Linked DNA regions of Homo sapiens: region 1 is linked to region 2. Evidence: fine-mapped expression QTL. Tissue or cell type: whole blood. Region 2 holds a variant in brackets; the other region holds the start of a gene. All regions are shown on one strand. Distances are from middle to middle. Region 1 holds the start of RELA-DT (RELA divergent transcript). Region 2 overlaps PCNX3 (pecanex 3).

Evidence for each region. PIP is the estimated chance that this variant, and not a neighbour inherited with it, causes the effect.
Region 1: it holds the start of RELA-DT, and the variant in region 2 is the best candidate, but not a certain one, in a credible set for the expression of RELA-DT in whole blood (INTERVAL, PIP 0.89).

The regions. Positions count from the first base shown.
Region 1 is chr11:65,660,523-65,665,882 of GRCh38, forward strand. It overlaps RELA-DT (RELA divergent transcript), which reads left to right and starts at 2,484. Exons shown (of 4, transcript NR_183625.1): 1 at 2,484-2,626; 2 at 4,924-5,021. It overlaps RELA (RELA proto-oncogene, NF-kB subunit), which reads right to left and starts at 2,394. Exons shown (of 11, transcript NM_021975.4): 1 at 2,304-2,394; 2 at 1,657-1,683; 3 at 1,415-1,566; 4 at 1,165-1,313. The coding sequence starts at 2,310. RefSeq lists silencers at 2,081-2,140, 2,201-2,610 and an enhancer at 2,701-2,900.
Region 2 is chr11:65,622,420-65,627,779 of GRCh38, forward strand. It overlaps PCNX3 (pecanex 3), which reads left to right. Exons shown (of 35, transcript NM_032223.4): 12 at 1,072-1,225; 13 at 1,510-1,542; 14 at 1,776-1,947; 15 at 2,052-2,162; 16 at 2,506-2,597; 17 at 2,752-2,861; 18 at 2,986-3,091; 19 at 3,233-3,325; 20 at 3,485-3,635; 21 at 4,485-4,629; 22 at 4,986-5,163. Among named protein-coding and RNA genes, the nearest start is that of PCNX3, 9.3 kb to the left of the region's middle. The variant G/T (reference allele first, on the strand shown) is at 2,367.

The DNA.
Region 1 (5,360 bases), 38 kb after region 2:
GGAATGTTCTTTTCCTACTTCTCTCCTCCTTCTCACCATTCAAGTCTTAGCTGAGGGAGGCCTTCCCTGACCTCCCAATCTAAAGTCATCACACACCAGCTCCCCTAACTCCCCCACCCCAGGTTATCCTTCTATCCTATGACCTCGTTTTATTTTCAGGACTGAAACTGTTACTCTGACAGCACCTTGTTTATTTATCTGTGTATTTATTTATTTTTAAGAGACACAGTGTCGGGCCGGGTGCGGTGGCTCAAGCCTGTAATCCCAGCACTTTGGGAGGCCAAGACAGGCAGATCACAAGGTCAGGAGATTGAGACCATCCTGGCTAACACGGTGAAACCCTGTCTCTACTAAAAAATACAAAAAATTAGCCAGGCGTGGTGGCAGGCACCTGTAGTCCCAGCTATTCGGGAAGCTGAGGCAGGAGAATGGCATGAACCCGGAAGGTGGAGGTTGCAGTGAGCTGAGATCGCGCCACTGCACTCCAGTCTGGGGACAGAGCAAGACTCTTTCTTAAAAAAAAAAAAAAAAAAAAAAAGACAAGGTATCGCCCTGCCACCCAAGTGCAGTGGTGCAATCATAGCTTGCCGCAGCAGTGACCTCCTGGGCTCAGGCGATCCTCCCACCTCAGCCTCCCTGGGACTATAGGCGCATGCCACCATACCCAGCTAATTTCTTATTTTTTGTAGACATGGGGTCTCACTATGTTGCCTTGGCTAGTCTTGAATTCCTAGGCTCAAGAGATCTTCCTGCCTTGGCCTCCCGAAGTGCTAGGATTATAAGCATGAGCCACTATGCCCGGCCTGTATATTTTTTTACAGCCTGTCTCTGTCAACTGCAATGTCAACTCCAGGGGAGAGTGCTGGTTCAATGGTTTTCTTCCTCAAACAAGAGACGTGACTCTGAGGGACTTGTCCTTCCAGCTACAGGGGTCAGGAATTCAGAAGTGATTAGGGACCCATCCGTATCCCCTGGAACTCATCTGCTAGAGTAAACGTACAAATAGATAATTTCAAGACAAAGGCAGTTTACTTGCAGAGCTGAGTCAGGGCAAGGAGTGAGGAATTCTGCCCTGGGTCCAGAAAGGAGTAACACTGTAGCGGCTACTTCATAGCCCGCCTCCTGTCCCCTCATGCTGGGCCTCCTAGCCTGCAGGGACCTCACCTGTGGATGCAGCGGTCCGGGCAGAGCTCAGCCTCATAGAAGCCATCCCGGCAGTCCTTTCCTACAAGCTCGTGGGGGTGAGGCCGGTGAGGAGGGTCCTTGGTGACCAGGGAGATGCGCACTGTCCCTGGTCCTGTGTAGCCATTGATCTGTCCAAAGTACAGAGGCCCAGACATCCAAACCTGACTCCCAAACACAGAGGGCTGGGGTTCCACAGTCCCTTCCCCGCACACCCTGGCGCAGTGCTGACCTTGATGGTGGGGTGGGTCTTGGTGGTATCTGTGCTCCTCTCGCCTGGGATGCTGCCCGCGGAGCGCCCCTCGCACTTGTAGCGGAAGCGCATGCCCCGCTGCTTGGGCTGCTCAATGATCTCCACATAGGGGCCAGAGGCCTGGGCTGGCTCTGCCAGGGGACACCGCAGCCCCATTAGGCGGCTGCCCCCACTGCCCTACCCCAGGGAGCACCTCCCCGACCGCCGCGGGGGCCACTTACCTGCCGGGAAGATGAGGGGGAACAGTTCTGAAAGGGGAGGGAGATCAGGGTCAGCACACACCCAATGCCCATTCTCACAAGGAGGAATCTGCTCTCCACGGAGAGGAGAAGCCAGGCTCCCTCCCAGGGGAACTGAGTCAGGACCTGCTCCCTAGAACCTGCGGTGAAACTAAGGGGTGGAGGAAAGGAACCAGAAACACCTGCTTCTTGAGGGAAAACGGGGTAAGGAATCCTTCTTCTCCAGAGGGAAGCTGAATCAGGGCCTGTTGTACTTTCTTAAGGAAAATTGAGGGAGGGCACGCCCCACCTCCCTCCAGAGAGGAAACTGAATCAGATGCGTTCTCCCCTAATAGGGAAACGAAGCCAGAGCTGCCCCCATGGACGGTGTGGAGGGAAACTGAGTCAAGGTTCCCTCTGCTCCCCCACCCAGGGAGGATGCTGAGTCAAGGGCCACCCCCTCCACCCAGAGGGGAAACTGAGTCAGACCCCTCCCCGCCTGCCCCGCCCCGCGCCACCATCCGGCAGGCCGACCGCTCCCTGCGCAGCGCCCGTCGGCGCAGGAAGGGGCGGAAAGCGGCGCGGGGGCTCCCGCCACAGCCGCGGCGGCCCCGGCGATGCCACCCCGCGGGGTCAGAGGGCGACCTCACCGTCCATGGCCGGGGTCCCGGGGGCGGGGCCGGGGTCGCAGCTGGGCCCGCGGCGTGCACTACAGACGAGCCATTCGCCAGAGGCGGAAATGCGCCGCGCGGCCCGCCGTCGCGTCACTGCCCGGAATCCGGCCGCGCCTGCGCGCTGCCCCGCCGCCGCCCGGCGCAGGGGCCGGGAGCAAGTGCACGCCGCGCGGAGGACGAAGAGGCTGCACGCACAGCCGCTGCCGGGGGTCGGGGCCAAGTGCGCGCCTCGCCGAGGACGAAGAGGCTGGCGTGCCCGGTGGCTCGGCTAGCTCCCGGGTCCCGGCCCCGCCTGGAGGGTGGGTCCGCCGATTACTCACTTTGTTTTTAGGGGATTTCAGGGCCCCCTCCCGCCGATCGGCGGAGTTTGGTGATGTCACTCTGGGCCGGGTCTGGAGCAAAGCCAGGGCTACTGGGCTGCGGCCGCCCGCCCCGCGCAGGGAAAAGCCCGACCGGGCCTTCTGCTCCGCAGAGGCCGGGTGGTTGAACTCCGCGCGGGTTTCCTAACCGCTAAAGGTGCCTTTCGGTGGTGGCTGTCTCAGAAGCACGTTAAAATGTCCTACCCACCCCAATCTAGATGCGGCTGTGGGGGAATGGGAGCGGCCGGACCTCCCAGCCTGACAGTGCATCAAGAGCTTTGCGGAGCCTACAGCCCGGATGGGACGACTGAGGCCCTCCCGCTGGCGAGCTGGCCGAGGGCTCGTCCCTCTCCAGCTAAAGCGCCAGCTTACGATACAGCCAAACTGCCGGCTCTCATCGGCTGTGGGAGCAGGAGGCCCCCAGGGGTAAATCCCGGAGCCTCGTCTCTGAAGCCTGGCGCTTGTGTCTCAGAAGGTGCGGGACCCACAGGGACACTTGAATCAGCAGGCTCACGACCCCCCACCCCCCTGCCCCCGCCTGTGTTTGCCCTGGACCTCCAGCTAGGGCTGACCACTAATTCTGTCATGTGACCCCACAGTGCAGGTAGCTCCCCCAAGACCAAGCCCAAGGCGCGTCCGTGTGGAGGCTGGGGCTGACGCACCCCCACCCCAGGCCTCATCCCCAAAGGAGGATGCTCCACTGCAGGGGGCGGAGTCTTCTCCAGATGGAGAAAGACTTTTTTATTTTCTCTGAATTCGTCTTAAATTAGGAAATCATGTGGGAATTGGAAAAGATTGGAAATTCTGACTTGTTTCCCAGGCTCTGAAGAAACAGGAAGAGAAAAGTGAAAATAGAGTTAGCACCCCGCCCACTCATTTCAGTTTCTCCAGTGGCTGGCCCTGATTAGAAAAGTGTTTACTTTTGGCAGGGGGCGGGGGAGGCCGACTTCAGGTGACAGAATGGATTAATTAAAATCTTTGGTTAATGATATACAATTATCATTGAACCTTGCATGGATCCTCTTCTTAAAATTCATGTATATTTATAACTTTTAAATTAATACGATAAACACCCATGTACCCATTGCAAAACTCAAGGGGCCACCACCATCCAGAATTCTGTATTGTATTGTATTGTATTGTATTGTATTGTATTGTATTGTATTGTATTTATTTATTTATTTATTTTTTGAGACACGGTCTGTCTCTGTCGCCCAGGCTGGAGTGCAGTGGCACAATCTCTGCTCACTGCAGCCTCTACCTCCTGGGCTCAAGCAATCCTCCCACTTCAGCCTCTTGCATAGCTGGGACTACGGGAGCACACCACCATGCCCGGCTAAGTTTTTGTATTTTTTGTAAAGAAGTGGTTTAACCTTGTTGTCCAGGCTAGTCTTGAACTCCTGAGCTCAACTTTCCTCCCCGCTTGGCCTCACAAAGTGCTGGGATTACAGGCGTGAGCCACCACGCTGGGCCAGAATTCTGTATTTTTTAAATTAATTAATTAATTAATTTATTGTAAATAGAGATGGGTCTCACTGTGTTGCCCAGGCTGGTCTCAAACTCCTGGGCTCAAGCGATCCTCCCACCTCAGCCTCCCAAAGTGGGATTACAGGCATGAGCCACCACACCTGGCCCAGAATTCTGTATTTTAAAGAAAAAAAAAGTTATATCTGCATGCCTACACAATATATCTTTTGGTTTTCCTTAGTTTTGAACTTTTTTTTTTTTTTTTTTGAGACAAAGTCTCACTCTGTCGCGCAGGCTGGAATGCAGTGGCATTCTGCTTACTGCAACCTCTGCCTCCTAGGTTCAAGCGATTCTCCTGCCTCAGCCTCCTGAGTAGCTGGGATTAAAGGGGCCAACCACCACGCCCAGCTAATTTTTGTATTTTTTTAGTAGAGACGGGGTTTCACCATGTTGGCCAGGCTGGTCTCGAACTCCTGACCTCAGGTGATTCGCCAGCCTCTGCCTCCCAAAGTGCTGAGATTACAGGTGTGAGCCACCGCACCCAGCCAGTTTTGAACTTTTATGAAGAGGGCATCATATGATTTGTTGTCCTTTGTTACTTGCTTTTTTCACTCAACCTGTTACTATGATTCATGTTTCACAGTTAATTCACTTTTTCACTGCTGTATACTATTTTGTTGTGTAAATATACCACAGTTTGTTTATTCATCCTGAAGATAGGCATTTTTATTTTTATTTTTTTGAGATGGAGTTCCTCTCTTGTGGCCCAGGCTGGAGTGCAATAGCACCATCTCGGCTCACTGCAACCTCTGCCTCCCAGGTTCAAGTGATTCTCCTGCCTTAGCCTCCTGAGTAGCTAGGATTACAGGTATGCATCACCATGCCCGGCTAATTTTGTATTTTTTTTTTCTTTTGAGACAGAGTTTCGCTCTTGTTGTGTGCAATGGCACAATCTCGGCTCACAGCAACCTCTGCCTCCCAGGTTCAAGTGATTCTCCTGCCTCAGCCACCTGAGTAGCTGGGATTACAGGTGCCTGCCACCATGCCTGGCTAACTTTTTGTATTTTTAGTAGAGACGGGGTTTCACCATGTTGGCCAGGCTGGTCTCAAACTCCTGACCTTAGGTGATCCACCTGCCTCAGCCTCTGAAAATGTTGGGATTACAGGCATGAACCACTGCATCTGACTAATTTTGTACTTTTAGTAG
Region 2 (5,360 bases):
CTCCCCAGACTCTGTACCTGTGGAGGCAGTCATGGCAGCAGAGAGCCTGACTCGGGGGAAGCTGAGGGCCTGTCGTTGGCTGGAGTCTGCAGTGGTGGTTTCTATGGTTCATTTGTGGTGTAAAGGGGTGGCCAAGTGGGTGGTGCTGTATTAAATCTGTTTATTCCAAAGTCCTGCTGAAAAAAACTTTTTTTGAGACGGAGTCTCTCTCTGTCGTCCAGGCTGGAGTGCAGTGGCATGATCTCGGCTCACTGCAAGCTCCGCCTCCCAGGTTCACGCCATTCTCCTGCCTCAGCCTCCTGAGTAGCTGGGACTACAGGTGCCCGCCACCACACCTGGCTAATTTTTGTATTTTTTTTTTTTTAGTAGAGATGGGGTTTCACAGTGTTAGCCAAGATGGTCTTGATCTCCTGACCTTGTGATCTGCCCGCCTCGGCCTCCCAAAGTGCTGGGATTACAGGCGTGAGCTACCGCGCCCGGCCATCCTATTCACTTTTTTTTTATTAGCTTCTGTTGATTTGAAAATCGAGTGCTGTAACCTAGAAAAGCTCACAGACCAGTTATCTCACTTTTCCCATTTCTCAGAGGGGACACAGAGTCCCAGAAAATCCAATAGAGAAGTCAGATGACTTCTACCCAGTGTAGAGAACTTGGGCCTAGAGCCCATGTGGCTTCCCGTCCATCTGGGTTTCTCTAGGCACAGGGACTGGGTGCTGGTCCTGTGTGCATAGCGTGGCACGCCCAAGGCAGCATGCACGATGTAGCCACGTGCAGTTAACTCAGTCTCAGCTGGGGATGGATGAATCCCGGGAGTAATGGCACCCTGAGCTCTCAGCCCTCAATGTCCAGAGCAGGCAAAGATTGGGAAGGAGAGAGCAATACAATGGTCGCTGGAGCAGGTGCTGCCGGGCCGCGTCGTCGCAAAGTTATAGGTGTTCACATCTTCAGAGGACAAGGGTCTGGCATGGGCACAGTCCCAGAGCTGGGCCTTTAGGGCAAGATCCATCTTCCCCACTGCCCCACTGGAAGGTGAGGCAAGACGGGCACGCCCTGACTAGGCTGTCCCTGCAGGACGCGGGGAGTGCTGGAGAACATCTTCGGCGTGGGCCTGAGCAGCCTTGTGGCCTTCCTGGGCTACCTGCTGCTGCTCAAGGGCTTCTTCACTGACATCTGGGTCTTCCAGTTCTGCCTGGTCATCGCCTCCTGCCAGTACTCCTTGCTGAAGGTCAGGCCGGGCTCTCTGTGTTTCCTTCCCCACCCGACTTTTCCCAAGATTGCCCTTCCCACAACTCCAGTTTTAAGGAGTATAAGCTGAAAGGTAGATAATTTGTCTAAGGTTCCCTAGAGCTGGCCAGCTCTTTTACAAGCAAGAAAACTGAGGCTCAGGACAGTTCGGGGGCCTGACCTGGTCACTCATAACTGCCTAGTGGTGGAGCTGAACAGGTCTGGGGCCTCTGACCATCCCGTGGGCATCGGCTCTAGTTGCCAACGTAGCCCTGTCTCTTCCAGAGCGTGCAGCCTGATGCGGCGTCCCCCATGCACGTGAGTACCCATGGAGCAGCGCCTCTGGCCAGGAGGCCCCGGGAGGGGCTGAGACCAGGTGGGGAGGAGGGTAGGGTATGGAGGGCTGGGGCTCCCTCACCACCCCCATCACCCCCACCTGGCCAGGCTCTCCAGCTTGGACCCAGGGCCAGGCCTGGGGCCCTTGAGTGTGTGCATGTGTCAGAGGTGTGGCCAGTCGGGGAGACCCAGCTCCTCATGGGCTGACCCCTCAGGGCCACAACTGGGTGATCGCGTACAGCCGTCCTGTCTACTTCTGCATCTGCTGTCTGCTCATCTGGCTGCTGGACGCCCTGGGCTCAGCTCAGCCCTTCCCACCTGTCTCCCTCTACGGCCTCACGCTCTTCTCTGCCTCCTTCTTCTTCTGTGCCCGAGACGTGGCCACTGGTGAGGCTGGGGCAGGGATGAGGTGGCCCAGGAGAGTGAGTCCCCGAGGGTGGGCCGCGGAAAGCCAGCAGGCTGACCAGGCCTTCGTGTCCCCTCCCTGCCAGTGTTCACCCTGTGCTTCCCCTTCGTCTTCCTCCTGGGCCTCCTGCCCCAGGTCAACACCTGCCTCATGTACCTGCTGGAGCAAATAGATATGCACGGCTTCGGGGGCACAGGTATGATGCCCACAGGTGGCTCAGGGATGGGGCCCGTGTGGAGGCCCAGGAGGGCCCTCGGATTGGGTCCTTGGCTCCACCCTTGCGGAACCTTCTCCTGCGTCTGTACTGCAGACTCAAGGTTTCTGCCTTCTCCCCTCTCCTTCCCTCCCCAGGCAAGTGGTTTATATCTGAGAATCTTGGAAGCTCTAAAGGCCGCTTGGG[G/T]CTTGGGGCAGCAGAGAACAATGGGCTGGGGGTGCCTTTCCAGGGAGGCCAGCCTCTGGGAGTTGAGGGGAAGCGCGGCTAGGGTTGAGGTGGGGTACCTGCAAGTGAGAGCTGGGCTGTACTTCTCCCTTCCACACAGCTGCCACCAGCCCGCTCACGGCAGTCTTCAGCCTCTCCCGCAGCCTGCTGGCTGCTGCCCTGCTCTACGGTTTCTGCCTTGGGGCCATCAAGGTAGGGGTGGCTTGCGAGGTGGGGGCATGCTGCAGTGCGTAAGGGTGGTTGGGGCGGGGCTGTGAACTGGGCTCAGCAGTGGCTTCTCACACGGGGGCAGCCCGGGCCCCATGCTTACCTCACCTCCCCTGACCAGCATGGATTCTCTCCGCAGACTCCGTGGCCAGAGCAGCACGTCCCTGTCCTCTTCTCAGTCTTCTGTGGCCTCCTGGTGGCACTGTCCTACCACCTGAGCCGGCAGAGCAGCGACCCCACCGTGCTCTGGTGGGTGTGCTCCGGGTCGTGTGTTTGTGTCTGCCCAGTAGGGGTTTGTGGTCTGTGCATGTGCCCGTGACTGGGGCCGGGGGGAAGGAGGGGCGGCCTCCTCCTGACTCTTCCTCACCCCCAGGTCTCTGATCCGGAGCAAGCTGTTCCCTGAGCTGGAGGAGCGCAGCTTGGAGACAGCCCGGGCCGAGCCCCCGGACCCCTTGCCGGACAAGATGCGCCAGTCGGTGGTGAGGGGGCGGGGGGTGGGGGTCTGTGGGGAGGTGGTGACAGGTCCTGGGGTTCCTGGGAGGGGCATGTCCAGCTTGGGCTGCTGGGCAGCTGAGTGTCTCTCCTGGCCGGGCAGCTGAATGTCTCTCCTGGCCCTGCAGCGTGAGGTCTTGCACTCCGACCTGGTGATGTGTGTGGTGATCGCCGTGCTCACCTTCGCCATCAGCGCCAGCACCGTCTTTATTGCCCTGAAGGTTTGTGTGGCATGGGCCGCTGCTGCCTCTCGCTGTCTTGGCGGGAGCCTGCTCAATCTGAGTGCCGTGGGCAGCCCCTCCCCGGCCTGTGCCAGGTGGCCCTCTGTGGTCCCTTGGCCTGCTCCCATCAGCTGAGTCTCTGGCCTCTCCCTCCTGCAGTCGGTGCTGGGTTTCGTGTTGTACGCACTGGCTGGGGCCGTGGGCTTCTTCACACATTACCTGCTGCCACAACTCCGCAAACAGCTGCCCTGGTTCTGCCTGTCACAGCCCGTGCTGAAGCCGCTGGAGTACAGCCAGTATGAAGTGCGCGGTGAGTGCCCACCCCTGATGGCCAGGCCTGGGCAGTGGCTCGGGCTGCAGCCTGGCTGGTGGGAGCTGTGGTCCTCTCGGCTCAGGAGTGCCAGCAGGGGGCACTCGCTGCCCACACTACCCTTTCTGCTCCCTCCCTGCCCTCTGTGTCCGTGTTGCCCGGCTGCGCTCTCCACCGACTCTTCTCCTCGTGCCCTGCTGTGCCCTTCCCTTGCCTGTGTTGCCCTGGTCCTGCCCTCCTTCCTGTCTGTGAGAAGACGGAAGAATTAGAACCCCAGGGCCCTGAAGGGATCTCTTGTCCAGAATTAAACACTGATCACCAGTGGACCAGAGCTGCCTGGAGCACATCTTCACTGGGCTGCATAATGGTTTTTAAAAAATCCTGGAGCCTCTATTTTAGCATCTCGATTTGAGATATGAAGATCCATGTTTCTTGAGTTTTTCTTAAACGACAGAAGATTTTGCTTCCCAGACTAGCATCCCTCTGTGGCTACAACCAGCCTGAACCGAGGGGTCTGCCCTTTAGAAGGGCCCAGCTCACGGGCTCACTGTGCACTCAGGCCCTAGCCAGCCTGCTGTACGTAGGTGTTTGCGATTTCATCATTGGCCTTGTTTTAACAGACAGCAGAGCAGAGCACCTGCCATAAAGCAAGCCTCGATGTGCTAAGTGCCATGTGGAGCCCTTGCCCTGCTGGGGCTCGCTGCTCCCATTTGAGCTGCCACAGATCAGCCCCTCCCCCCAGGGTCTCCGAGGAGTCAGGACCGCACAGCCTGCCCTCCTAGGGAAGGACTTCCTCAGGGAAGGCAGGCATGTGGAAGCCAGGTGCAGAGTCCTGGCCTCTCCACACAGGTGCCGCCCAGGTGATGTGGTTTGAGAAGCTGTATGCTGGCCTGCAGTGCGTAGAGAAGTACCTCATCTACCCCGCCGTGGTGCTCAACGCCCTCACGGTGGACGCCCACACAGTCGTCAGCCACCCGGACAAGTACTGCTTCTAGTGAGGACCACCCCACCCTCAACGATCCCATCATCCGCTTTCCCTTTTGATCCGTGGGGAAACTGAGGCCTAGAGAGGGAATGAATCATGTCTAAGGTTGTTTAGCAAGCTAAAGCAGGACCCCAGCTCCTGACACGCCATCCCAGGAAGTGGTTGCTTCTTCAAAGGCAAATGTGTTCCCACCACTCCCTTTGGAAGAGCAGAGACTAAGAGTCACGGGCCCAAAAGAGCAGGGACCAGCCCAGCAGAGCAGAGGCCAGGGGTTGCTCTCCGGCCAGAGTAGGCGAGGGATGGGACACCTATACCCACTGCCCCGGTCCCCTACCAAGCACCCGATGCCTGCCCCTTGCCCACAGCTGCCGGGCGCTGCTGATGACCGTGGCTGGGCTGAAGCTGCTGCGCTCAGCCTTCTGCTGCCCCCCACAGCAGTACCTGACGTTGGCCTTCACCGTCCTGCTCTTCCACTTTGACTACCCGCGCCTCTCCCAGGGCTTTCTGCTTGACTACTTCCTCATGTCCCTGCTTTGCAGCAAGGTGAGTTGGTGGCTGTGGCCCAGACCCCAGGCTGTCCAATGGGAGCAGAGCCAACTTCTGCCTGGGTGGGAAGAGAATTTCCTGAGGGCCTGTGGCCACCGCTCTGTATCAGCCCCGTGGGCCTTTGCAGCAGCCTCTCAAGGAAGGGGTTACTTCCACCCTCTACAGAGAGGAAGCAGGCTGAAGGAGGTTGAGGG